Linked DNA regions of Homo sapiens. The protein of the gene in region 4 purifies or fractionates together with the protein of the main gene of each other region. This does not show direct contact. Each region holds a gene or a part of one and is shown on either strand. Other genes may lie near its edges.

Region 1 (2,598 bases), on a different chromosome or scaffold from region 4:
CTCAGGTGTTCAGTGATCCTCTCACCTCAACCTCCCAAGTAGCTAGAACTACAGGCATGTGCCACCACGCCCAGCTAATTTTTTAAGTTTTTGTAGAGATGGGGTCTCACTGTGTTGCCAAGGCTGGTCTCGAACTCCTGGGCTCAAGTGATCCCCCTGCCTTGGCCTCCCAAAGTGCTGGGATTACAGGCATGGGCCACCATGCCCAGTCTTATGAATAAATGTATCTTGAAACACTTGGCAGGGCCTCCCCAAACACAGAAGACAATTTAAAGCAATTGGTGAAACAAATTTAAAAGTGCCTGAACTGCTTAAGAATTCAAGCAAAGACAAGTGGGAGACTGGTCAGATTTAAATTATCTTTGACAAGCAAAGGGTGGTCCAACTAGTTTCCTCTTGGCCAGGCCTGTTTACTGACTGTAAGCTAATGATCAAATAAGAGCTAATGATTAGGAATGGTCCGAAGAGGGCTCTCTAAAAGGTACATCTGGCTGGCAATCTGAGATCTGTGAGTAACCACTAGAAAAAAAGAAGTTTCTGCATTCCATGTCTGGGGCATCGACTGCAGTTCATTTAGTTTTAATTTCCGTTGTGAAGTGCTCTTCCCTTGCCCATTTTATATATTTTTGACTATAGCATTTTGAGAGGGACACAATGCTTTGCTTTACACACAATTCAAGCCTCCACAAGAAAACCTTTCTAACCCTTGTCGCAAATATTGGGAATATGTCTCACCTGCTCTGACTGTGTCAGCTTCATGGCTTCAGAAAGATATGCTGTTAAGAGAAAAAATAGGCATGTTAATATGTGTCTTCATTTTGTAATTAACAGGTAAAAGGAAGAGTTTTAATAATCTTCATATGACAAAGAGAACTGGTCTGATAACTCTGATACAATTGGGGATTTTTTAAAAGAATTCTTAACTTCCCCCAAAAGGATGTCAGTGGCAATAAAATGAAAATATTCCCTACCCTATCTTGAAGGTTTTGTTATTTAAAACTCCTACAGATTTTATAATTCAGAAACTGAAGATGGTCTAATCAGAAAAATAGGTTTAGGAAAGATAAAAATCAAACAAGAACCTATCCAAACCCTATTACTCATCATACTCACAAAAATATCATGAGATTATCAATGACTTTTTATCCGTCTGAATACCTGGAATCTATCATTTTGGACTCCTATAGAATCACTTTTAATGAATTGTCTCTGAGTTAAACCATCAGCCTTATGGTTAAAAGCCCTAAGAACTTGTTGACATATTTACTGCGAGGAAGTTACTGAGGACAGTATAATGTCATTTATGAAGACCTTCAATAAACTTCTCTCTGATCTTAGATCCTCGGTGACTATTTGTTTGAATTTTAATAGCCAATGTAAAAATTATTATCTTTCCTCTTTAGGATGACTGCTAGAAAACTTAAGTCAAGTTCTTAAAAAAATATGCAAGAACTAATGGTACATTTTGTGAACTACACTACTAGTCCTTTCTCATTTTCTCTATGGATGTCCTTATCTATGTATCTTTAATTACATTCGATATTTTATTGTACATTCATCTGTAAGACATTTTATAACCTTTCGGGAACAAGGTTAGGTATAAATAAGTTCTCTATTATCAATGAATTGTCCATAATGAATCTCCATTTTTATCTTGCTTGTTATAAACATTTTTGGCATCTCTCATACCTACATTAAGTTCCTCTTTTGCCCTTTTGCAGATACTACGAGGCATTGCTTTCTGTCCAGTCTTAATCCAAATAATTTAATGCTTTGATGTCATAACTTAAGAGTTCTTGCCTGCTAGGTTCTACCACAGTCTTTAAGATACAATTATATCAGGGGTCCCAAACCCCCAGGCCGGTACTGGTCTATGTCTTGTTAGGAACTGGGCCACACAGACAGCAGGAAGTGAGCAGCAGGCAAGCCAGTGAAGTTTCATCTGTATTTACAGCCACTCCCCATTGCTTGCATTACCGCCTGAGTTCTGCCTCCCATCAGATCAGCAGCGGCATTAGCTTCTCATAGCACAAACCCTACTGCAAACTGCACAAGCAAGGGATCTAGGTTGCACTCTCCTTATGATAATCTAATACCTGATGATCTGTCGCTGTCTCCCATCACCCCTAGATGAGACTGTCTAGCTGCAGGAAAACAAGCTCAGGGCTCCCACTGATTCTACATTATGTTGAGTTGTATAATTATTTATTTCTATTATTACATTGTAAAATATAAAGTGTACAATAAATGTAATGTGCTTGAATCATCCAAAAACCATTTTCCTGACCCCAGGTCTATGGAAAATTGACTTCCACAAAACCAGTCCCTGGCAGCAAAAAGGTTGGGACTGCTGAATTAGATGCTCCCTTTCCAAGAAAAAGAAGAGTTGGAGCCAGGCGCAGTGGCTAGCACTTTGGGAGGCCAAACAGGAGGACTGCCTGAGCCCAGGAGTTCAAGACTAGACTGGGTAACATAGCGGGACCCTGTATCAATTTAAAAAGAATTTAAAAAAAAAAAAGGAAAGAAAAAACAGAGTTGGTTATACAGTCTTTGCTCCAGCTATGCTTACCATAATTACATCCTTCCCACAACCCTTGT
Region 2 (3,500 bases), on a different chromosome or scaffold from region 4:
CTGGCATAAATCTCTGTAGCTATGTTGGGACCTTTTGGCCAGGATTTTTTTTTACCTTGAGTGCTTTGTGGGCTTGAGCCCGTCTGTAGAATGCCTTCACGTTCTTTCCATCCAGCTTGAGGGCTTCTGTGCAGTCCTTCACTGCTTCTGTGTACTGCTTCAGGACCAAATAGCAGAGTGCTCTGAAGGGAAAGACCATTTCAGAGGTTTCAGTCACGTCTTATGGGCCACCCACATGCCACGCAGTAGTTTGAGAAGTGATCTCCAATTTGCTGAACACCTACTCTGTGCTGGTTACTTTATGTCTTCTTAAATCCTCACAACAATCCTAGCCCTTTTCATGGATGAAACATGCTGGCTCAGAAGGGTAAAGGAACTTGGGCCAGGTACCGCCAGTATTAAGGGGCAGACCCAGGATTCAAATAGGCGGGCGTTCGTTCATGGGACTCCAGATCCTGATCTCATCTAGTTCTATCATGCTGTACTGCGCTCTCCTATACTGAGCTCTTTCAAGCAAAGAAAAGGTTTCCTGAAACTTTTCCCTTGACAGATTAAAAAATTATCTACTTTAAGGGGGAAAAAAAAACCCAACAACTACTGAACTCTAATGATATAATGCTGACATGGGGTGAAATGTAAAGACGTTTGCAATTTACTTTTAAGTGCATCAAACACAATAATACAGACCAACAGATGGCTAAATAGTGATAAGGCAATGTAATAATACTAATTGTAGAATTTAGATGGTAGGTCTATGGGTGTTCAATGTACAAATCTTTCAACTTTCCTATATTTTGAACATTTTCATAATAAAATGTTGGAAAAAAGTTATGTGCATCCATACAATATATTCTGCATCTGTGGGTTCAAAAAAGTGCATGTGTGTATATATCTTCCTCATTCAGATCTAGTCCTTCTCTCCAAAGACAGTCACTAAAAACAAAACAGTCAGATGTCTGGGCGCTCATTACATAAGTTCATCTGTTCCACCTCACTGTTTTCAGTGGGTGCAGGGTATTCACTAAGTTGGATGTAGCATAATTTATTTTACCAATTTCCTATCAAGAGGTATTTTTCATTGTTTCCAGTTTGTAAATAAGTGATGCCATGATGAACATCCTTGTGCAAGGGACTGCTGTATCCAAAGATACATGCATTTTAAAACCTGACTGGCCAGGTGCAGTGGCTCATGCTTATAATCCCAGCACTTTGGGAGGCCAAGGTGGGAAGGTCACTTGAGCCCAGGAGTTTGAGACCAGCCTGGGCAACATAGGGAGACCCCATCTCTTAAACAAAACAAAACAAAAAAAGAAATAAAATCTGATTGTTACTGCCAAAATGCTTTCCAAAAAAGCTGAATAGTTATTGACAGAGCCTATTTTCCTACAACTGTACCAACTTTGGGTCTTAAATTTTCATGTATGCCAATATGGAATAAAACACTATCTCACTGCCTTAGCTGCTTAGTTGTGGGTAAAGCTGAACATCTTTAATAAGGGTTTTTAATCTTTTGAAATCAAACTTCTCTAACTTTTCCTTTAACGACTTCTGTAACATTTTTTTCCCTTCACATAAGAATACCTTCCCCACTGCAAGATAGTTAATCCATGTGTTCTTCTAGAACTTAATGGTTTCGCTTTTTACATTCCAAACTGTGATCCACTCAGAACTTACTTTAAAATAAGAAGCAAGGTAGGATTCAAGTTTAACTCTAACCTGGCCAACCCAACACCTCTTATTAAATAATCTCTCTTTGCCCCAGACTTTATTATACACCAGATTCTCTCATGTCGTTGTTCTCATTTTTTTCTGACTTATCATGAATTTAAAGAAGAAAATTCTACTAGTCCTTTGTGATTGCATGGAATTCATAAATTAACGGAGAGAAAAATCTTCTTGTAACAACTTAAAAGACAGGCACAAATTCTTTGGCAATCCTCCACTGAGAGGCGGAGGTGTATCTGCTCTCTCTCTTTGAATTCGGGCAGGCTCTGTGACTGCTCTGACCAACAGAGGACAGAGGAAGGGACACGATGTGACTTCCAAGGTTAGGTCATAATAGGCCTTGCAGCTTCCACCTTGGTCTCTGGAAACACTCGCTCTTGGAGCCTTGAACTGACAGGGAAGAAGCCAACTACTCTGAGGCCACCACGCTCTCAGGAAGCTCACAGCAGCACACATGAAAAGGCTGCTAAGAAAGTGGAAAGAGGTGCCAGCTTGCTCTAGCAGTTCCATCACCCAGCCATTTGAGTCAGGCAGCCCAGCTGCCAGACATTCGAGGAAGAAGGCTTTAGAGGATTCCAGCCCCAGCTACCATCTTGCTGACCCTGCATGAGAGACCCCAAATGAGAACTGCCCTTCCCTAATTCCTGACTCCACAAATTACAAGCAAAATAAAATGGTTGTTGTAAATCACCAAGTTTTAGAATAGTAGCCCGTTTTAAACTTTGAACACAGAAGAATTCCTTTTTTTTTTTGGAGACAGGGTCTCACTCTGTCACCCAGGCTGGAGTGCAGTGGCATGATAACAGCTCACTGCAACCTCCGCCTCCTGGGTTCAAGCGATTCTCCTACTTCAGCCTCCCGAGTAGCTGGGATTACAGGTGCATGCCACCATGCCCAGCTAACTTTTGTATTTTTTGGTAGAGATGGGGTTTCACCATGTTGGCCAGCCTGGTCTCAAACTCCTAACCTCAAGCAATCTGCCCACCTCAGCCTCCCAAAGTGCTGGGATTACAGGCATGAGCCACCTCTAAACATAGAGGAATTCTAAGGAAATTAAAGTTTCCTCCCAATGGGCTTGGCAATTTAAAGAAATAGCCAAGTGTCTGGGAAGCAGAGGAACCACCGTGTATCGTGACTTCAGAATAGAAATGTGATTAATAGGGTCATGTGAGACTTCTAAAGACTATATTTAAGATGAACAAAATGCATAACTTCAGGCAATAAAATAAACCCCCTTGACTTTTGGTAAATGAAGTAACTGTATCCAGTCAGAAGGGTTTTAATTACAAAGGGGTTGGGAAATAACACAAGTGAGTGAAAGGGAAATAAGCTTTGGAGTCACAAAGATCTGGCTTAAATCTCAGCCACCATGTACTAGTTGTTTAACTTTGTGGTCACTAATTCATCTTTCTGAGCCTGATTAGGTAACACAGGACAATGATCTAAGCTGAAGAACTGTTGTGAGTACAAGTGAGATTCTTATGACAGCTGTTTCAGGGCTGGCAAGTTGTAGGTGCTATGCACTCAGATGTCACCTGCACAAAGGGAGCCAAAGTAAGCCAAAGCCTGGGCATTGTGTCATTCAGATGGGCGTACATGAGGTGGAGCATTAGACTATGTCCAAGACGTTCCAGGACATGATAAAATGTTAGCCACAATGGCTGAAAGTTGTTTTGTCATTAGTCCTCTAGATTAAATTATAAATCCAATGCAATCACAACCAAAAGCTGTCCAACAAGACATTTTTTGGAATTTGCCAAAATGATCCGAAGCTT
Region 3 (3,500 bases), on a different chromosome or scaffold from region 4:
TAATGCTCTTTAAAAGTTATCCAGTAGGTTCTTCCAAGATCTTAACATTCTCCATCAAAAAAAGGGTAAACAGTTACAAACTATAAACTCTTAATTCAGATTTTACATAGTAATCAAACTATTTGCTAACAAGCAACTCAAAATTAATTGCTTCCAGTCTCTTTTACACTTCACATCTTAAGAAGACTACACAAAAGTATTCCCTTTACTGACGAGAGGATCACATATTTTACAAAGATGCTTAAAATGGCTCCCTTAGAAGTAGATCAAATTTGTATTTTAAAAGCAAAAGGATTTCATATTAAACCTATCTGTAAGTCTGTCTGTTTTGGAAAGTAAAAGAAAAACTATTTTAAAATTCTAATAGCATAGAACATGGAACTAATTCTACTTTGTATTCCTCTAGAAGTGGTACCCAACCTTGGCATCAGGAACTAGTTTTGTGAATGACAATTTTTCCACAGATGTGGGTTGGGGAGTGGGGCCGGATGAAACTGTTCTACCTCACATCATCATCAGGAATTAGATGCTCATAAAGAGCACACAACCTAGATACCTCAGAAGCGCAGTTCACAATAGGGTCCGCACTCCTATGGGAATCTAATGCCGCTGCTGATCTGACAAGAGGTGGATTTCAGGCAGTAATGCTAGCTTGCCAGTGTGTCGCTCACCTCCTGCTGTGTGGCCTTGTTCCTCACAGGTCGTGGATCGACCTGTCCACGGCCCAGCGTTTGTGAACCCCCGCTCTAGAGGATCTAGCTCAGACTCTTACAAAGTGAGTAATTAATTAGTGACTCAACTGGATATAATATTTTTCTACCACTTAACCAATATCTAGACTGCTTTAAAATTTAATAGAAAGGAGGTCGATATTAAGAATTTTTTAGGCCGGCCACAGTGGCTCACACCTGTAATCCTAGCACTTTGGGAGGCCAAGACGGGCGGATCACTTGAGGTCAGGAGTTCGAAATGAGCCTGGCCAACATGGTGAAACCCCATCTCTACCAAAAATACAAAAAAAATTAGCCAGGCATGGTGCCACGCACCCGTAATCCCAGCTACTTGGGAGGCTGTGGCAGGAGAATCACTTGAACCTGGGCGGCGGAGTTTGCAGTAAGCCAAGATTACACCACTGCACTCCAGCCTGGGTGACAGAATGAGACTCCATCTCAAAAAAAAAAAAAGATTTTTTTAAAATCTCAAGATATTAAAATATATTGAAATCTACAACAAAGTTTTTAATTTGTTTCATAATCACACAAATTCCATTATGTGCAAGAACAATACGCTAAGTATCTGATGCGAAGGTTTCAAAAATATATCTCACAACATAAAAATAACTCTAAAACTTCCTATTGATGAGGTAAAAAGATAAAAATTCAATAAACCTTTAGTGAGCATCTACTATGTGCTAGGCTCTGGAAATACAAAAATTGTGGAAGATTAGGTCCTCAGAGGCTACAAGGGAAGACAAACACAAACACTATTCAGTAAAAAGTGTTTTTATTGCAGGAGAGGCAGAATATAAGGTACAGTGAACACCCCAGAAAAGAGAATGTGAATCTTGAACAATGACTAGAATTTTAATTGGCAAACGAGGGAGAGAGGATAAAAGGCATGGCTAAAGGCATGGAAATAAAAAATGTAAAGATCTAGTTGAAACGTAAGCAAGTTAACCAATTTCTATAAAGGATACAACACAATGGAGATGTATCAACCATAAGCTAAATGATAAAATGTACTATATCCAAATTTAGAGAGAGGAATAACACCATCAAAATGATACTGTTCAAAGATTAATATGACAGCAATATGCATGCTAGATTAAATAAGGGAGAGAATAGAGGCAGGAAAAACAATTAAGCTATTACTATACTCTAGGGATAAAAATAAGGCTAGGTGCGGTGGCTCACGCCTGTAATCCCAGCACTTTGGGAGGCCGAGGCAGGTGGATCACCTGAGGTCAGGAGTTCGAGACCAGTCTGATCAACATAGAGAAACCGCATCTCTACTAAAAATACAAAATTAGCTGGGCATGGTGGCACACGTCTGTAATCCCAGCTACTTGGGAAGCTGAGCCAGGAGAATCGCTCGAATCCGGGAGGTGGAGGTTTCAGTGAGCCAAGATAGCGCCATTGCACTCCAGCCTGGGCAACAAGAGCAAAACTCCATCTCAAAAAAATAAAATAAAATAAAATAATAAAGGTATGAACTAGGTTGCCAGTAAAAAGTGGCAAAGAAAAGAACTGATGCCAAGGTAATTGTAAAGAAAAGACTGAGCTAGAAGACAGACTGGATTATGCATAGACAAGGGGAATGAGTAAACAATAACTAAAATGTTTAACTTGATTCTAAAGATTAATACATCATTAACAGAAACAGGAACATCAATGAGAAGAGTAGACTTGATGAAGAAAGATAGACCTGTTTTAGGTTGAATTTAAAGAAATTCCTGACGATGTAAAATTGTCTTACCACCAAATTAATAATACTTTTAAAATAATTAGTTAAAAAGGATGCTGGTAAAGTCTAAAGATAAGTATCTCTAATGTTAACGGATAAACGTAAAATTATAATACTGAATTGCAACTATGAAAATCTATATTTGAACAATAAGAAATCCTTTGAAGAAATCACAAAGGTTAACGTGAATACAGTAGTTGCCATTCTATGGCAAAGGGGGTGAACTTGTATTTACTATATTACTACTTAAAAGACATTATTAAATATAAAATTACAATACATTTAATATTTCATTTCAAATCAATACATAACCCCAAAAAATGGAAATGAGGCTTGGAGCTTTGCAGAAATGAGGGAACTGTAAACTGACTTGGAAGTCACTGGCACAGAGGAAAAAGAAAAGATTTTAAGGCTAAAATCAACAGGCTAAACTCAAAACTGCTGGAGAAAAATCTCAGCCCTGTATTTTATGCACACCAGTATCAGTAAGAATCAGCAATAAGGCATTCTATATATAACTTTATTAATCTCCTTAAATCTTTACAAAATATGCTAAAATAGAGATATAATCACATACTGTAAAACTCTACCAGGTAGCTATAAAATCAGAAGCTGATTATTGCCCCATTGGTAATAATGAAATTCTACTCTAGACCTCGGTTCTAGAAAAACCAGAAATTTGTATCTATGGTTAACTTTGTGCTGTTTTGTAGCTTTGGGGGTCAGGTCCTGGGTAGAGTGGGTGGGGGAGAAAGGCTACTCTGGAGACTAAGATAGGAAATTTGACAAGAAACGCTGCTTTTTCTTCTATACAGAGGACACATTTCTATACAAAAAGAACAGCTGAAGACTGGATATCTTTTATAACTTCTAATGAGGTAGCACATTCAACAAATTAATAAACCTTTAAATATAAGCTCTTTAAAGTAAAAGCAAAATATTCGATTTTCAAAAGCATATTTGTGGGTTGTGATGTTCCTAAAACTTTTCTCTTGACAATGAAATTTAGAACACTTGATCAAAACCAGAAAGTAAAT
Region 4 (3,500 bases):
TACTGTCTTGAAGGAATTAAACTTACTTTTCTTGCTGAGACCATAGGAAAAATATTTCAACTCAGCAGAAGAATTGCTATAATTTTCACATAGAGACTTCACCAATTTATCTTTGTAACCATATCATCATCATAATATGACACCCTGTTCTGAATTGCCAATGACTTTTAAGAACAATAAGATTATACTTAGTGGGCAAATCCCGTGTATTTTGTTTGTTTTTTTTTTTTTTTTTTACTAAGAATCTGCCTTAAAGTGAAAAGGGATTTTATCAATTTAATATTCAATTCTACCACTTTTCCCCATCTTCTTCACATTTGTATATGATGAAAATAGCCAGTAGACTGGGGCCAACTAGGCTTTGTAGGTCCTGCCAAGCCATATGAAGTCGGTGTTCTTTTAGGTCAAAGATTTATGTGGCCTTTAACCTGAAGACATAGAAAAGCCTTCCAGTAACAGTGTAAAGCCATGAGACAGTAGGCTGTAGAGCCAGGTACCTGGGTTTGAACTCTGGCTCTTCACTTAGGAGATGAAACTTTAAACATATTTCCTGTTGATGGCAGGCACAAATATCTGGAATAAATGAAGGCCTCTGTACCATCGACTGTGTGTTACACTATAGACAGACTTAAAATGCAAAGACATAGTATTTGGTACTCCCTCTGAAATCAAATGATCCTCCCTGGTTTGAATCCTGGAACTATGGCTTCTATTGTTTGAGATCCAAGACTGGTTGGCACCTAGGCAGCACTCAGGAGATGTGGGCTTTCATCATTATTATTTTTCAGGCAGAAAGAGGAGATAATCAAATATATGCATCAGAAGATTCTGGTGCCAGTATGCAGGACTGCTTGGGTGAAAGAGACTCTACCAACAGTGGGATATGGTTTTTCACACTCCATAACTCACAGGAACCACAAATATTTGCAGAATCTTACCCATTCTTCAAGAAATTGATCAGTATTGATGTTTAACAAAGAGGGGACAGTTAACATTGGATGACATATACTTAAGATGAAAATTACACAAAATTATAAGTGTTAAAGAAAATGACTTACTGTTTCAGAAAATATTTCCATCATGCGAGTTCTCTTTTCTTCTGCACTCAGTCCTTTTTTCTTTGACTAAAGCAAAAAAATTAACAAGTAAACAATGCTTTTAAACACATTTTGAAAACAACTGGATTTGCAACATTTGAAATTTTATGCATGGTCTTATCTGATGCCAACAGGTTTGATACTCTCAAAGTCAGACCTAAAGACTCATTTTAATTACTATCTGCCAACCACTGTGGTAGGTGCTGCCAAGATGGTAACTGTAAATTGAGGCAGAGCCTGGCATTTTGTAGAAATTCAGCATTTATAAAGTAAACCAATGATAAGCCACTGTATTGACCTTCCAAAGGCTTACAATCTCTCAGAGAAAATATATAGATGCAACTATTTATAGCTAATGAACAGCTACATGCACCAATTGTTACATAAATACCCAGAACACAATGAATTCCACTATGCAGAGGAAGAAGGGTTACCTAAGGACAGAGATTAAAAGGATTTTGGCAAATTGAGAAATGGTTAGAAGCACATCTTGGGGAGACCACACACAGGCACAATGTTATGGAAGTACATGGAATTCCCCAGAAGGATAAGCAGTGGGGGACAGTTATTGTATGAAGTATGTAGGGGGATTGGCAGATGGGATGAGAAAGGTGTGGGGTCAGGTTATGGAAAGCTGACTGTCCAGCTGACAGTGGACTTCATTCTAGACAATGAGGAGCTGCTGAGTAATTTCTAAAGCAGACTAGTGACAAGATTAGAGTTGCATTTTCGTTAAGTTAATTATAGCAGCAATGTGGAAGAGAAGATGGAAGGGGGAAAGGCCTATCCAAGTAGAAAATGGAAGCCCACTCAGGTTATTCTTCTGTAATACCCTTTAGCCAACTTGAAATTAAGACAATATGTAGCTGAAATATATGTTAATAATAAATTTTACAATATATTGTACATAGAATATATAAAGCTAAATCCTAAGTTAAAAGAGAAAGGAGCCAAATTTCCTCCAAACCAAAGGTTTACAGAAAAAAAAAAAAAAAAGAGTGAGAACTATCACCTCCAGTTCTCTAATAAAAAAACTCCACACTAATATTTCTTATGTGATCTGCATCTTTCTCAAAAATTGTAGGGGATTATAAAGGAATATAAATTGTTTGCTTAAAAAGCAGACATAAAACAACAGTTAAAGACTGCCCCATCCAACCAAAAACATCATCAGAAAACGTGAGTTTACATAAGTGAAGACAAGGATTTGGAATTGCCATTCTGGCTACATACTGGAGTGAGTGAGTCTTAATTCTTGTAAAACCTAGAAACCCACTAACTTGGCTGGGCGGTGGCTCACACCTGTAATCCCAGCACTTTGGGAGGCTGAGGCTGGAGGATCACTTGAGGCTGGGAGTTTGAGACCAGCCTGGGCAACAAAGCAAGACACTGTCTCAAAACAAAACAAAACAAAGCCCACACACACAAAAAAAAACAACAACCCACTAACTCATTCCCACAGGAATAAAATGATCAGGTGTTTCTTGATGAGTAATATGGGTAAATAAATAGCTTAAAGTTTATATTTTTCTCTTCTTCCTCGGTCCACTTTCAAACACTGTTTTTCTGCTGGGTTTGGCTACTGATCCCATCTCCTAATATCTTATCTTTGATCTCATTTGCTTTCATGGTTTTAATTAACACTTATGCTGAGACCTCAAATCTTTACATTCACCCCTGGGTGTGCTCCTGAGCTTCAGTGTCATGCATCTACCCGCCTGCTGGACAAACTTCAACTCCGTCAGTCTAAACTGAACTCTTCCTCTCTCATACCTACTCCCCACAAACTTGCTGTTCTAGACCTTGAGTCTCAGATACTATCTCGTGACCCAAGCCAGAGGCCTGACAGTCATCCTAGGTACCTTCACCTCCTTATCTCACATCCAACCAATCACCAAGTTCTGCCAGTTTCAGCATTTAATTATTTCTCTTATCTGTCCTGTCTGTTCTATCTCTACTACCACTGCCTCATTCAGGCCTTCATCATCTATCTCCTGCAATATACCTCCAGTCCCCTAACCACACTTTGACTCACCCTCTATGTTCACATTCCGCACTGGGAAAACATAAATAAGACCTTTTTCCCTGCCTTGCTCAAAACCCTCCAGTGGCTCCCAGACATCCAGACGTTTCTGAGTACCCCAGTATGATATACAAGGCCCTTTATCACCTAACCCCAACCTACCTTTTATAGCCTCTTCCACCACACCCCACCTCAAACTTTGCCATTAACAGTATGGAGACCTAAGCAACTTGTAATACAAAAACTGCCTGTAATTATCTACTCGAAGAATGCTCTCATTTCCATCCTTAAAAAAAATGTTCCTCCACCTAGAACATCCTCACTTCTTGCCTAGTCAAAACTCCAAAACATCTCCCAAGGCTTAGTTTAGGCACTCTCCC

Evidence for each region. The genes of interacting proteins can lie anywhere in the genome.
Region 1: the proteins of MND1 (region 4) and NRBF2 purify together in Homo sapiens (co-immunoprecipitation; one large-scale study listed by IntAct). This does not show direct contact.
Region 2: the proteins of MND1 (region 4) and TOMM34 purify together in Homo sapiens (affinity purification with mass spectrometry; one large-scale study listed by BioGRID and IntAct). This does not show direct contact.
Region 3: the proteins of MND1 (region 4) and PPP1R12A purify together in Homo sapiens (affinity purification with mass spectrometry; one large-scale study listed by BioGRID and IntAct). This does not show direct contact.

The regions. Positions count from the first base shown.
Region 1 is NC_000010.11:63,150,328-63,152,925, reverse strand, and holds part of NRBF2 (nuclear receptor-binding factor 2), read right to left. Parts: exon of another isoform or gene 2,570-2,598; intron 777-2,569; coding exon 736-776; intron 1-735. UniProt on the Homo sapiens protein: May modulate transcriptional activation by target nuclear receptors. Can act as transcriptional activator (in vitro). Involved in starvation-induced autophagy probably by its association with PI3K complex I (PI3KC3-C1).
Region 2 is NC_000020.11:44,943,398-44,946,897, forward strand, and holds part of TOMM34 (mitochondrial import receptor subunit TOM34), read right to left. Parts: intron 183-3,500; coding exon 56-182; exon of another isoform or gene 55-55; intron 1-54. UniProt on the Homo sapiens protein: Plays a role in the import of cytosolically synthesized preproteins into mitochondria. Binds the mature portion of precursor proteins. Interacts with cellular components, and possesses weak ATPase activity.
Region 3 is NC_000012.12:79,928,598-79,932,097, forward strand, and holds part of PPP1R12A (protein phosphatase 1 regulatory subunit 12A), read right to left. Parts: intron 1-3,500. UniProt on the Homo sapiens protein: Key regulator of protein phosphatase 1C (PPP1C). Mediates binding to myosin. As part of the PPP1C complex, involved in dephosphorylation of PLK1. Capable of inhibiting HIF1AN-dependent suppression of HIF1A activity.
Region 4 is NC_000004.12:153,347,688-153,351,187, reverse strand, and holds part of MND1 (meiotic nuclear division protein 1 homolog), read right to left. Parts: intron 1,125-3,500; coding exon 1,059-1,124; intron 1-1,058. UniProt on the Homo sapiens protein: Required for proper homologous chromosome pairing and efficient cross-over and intragenic recombination during meiosis.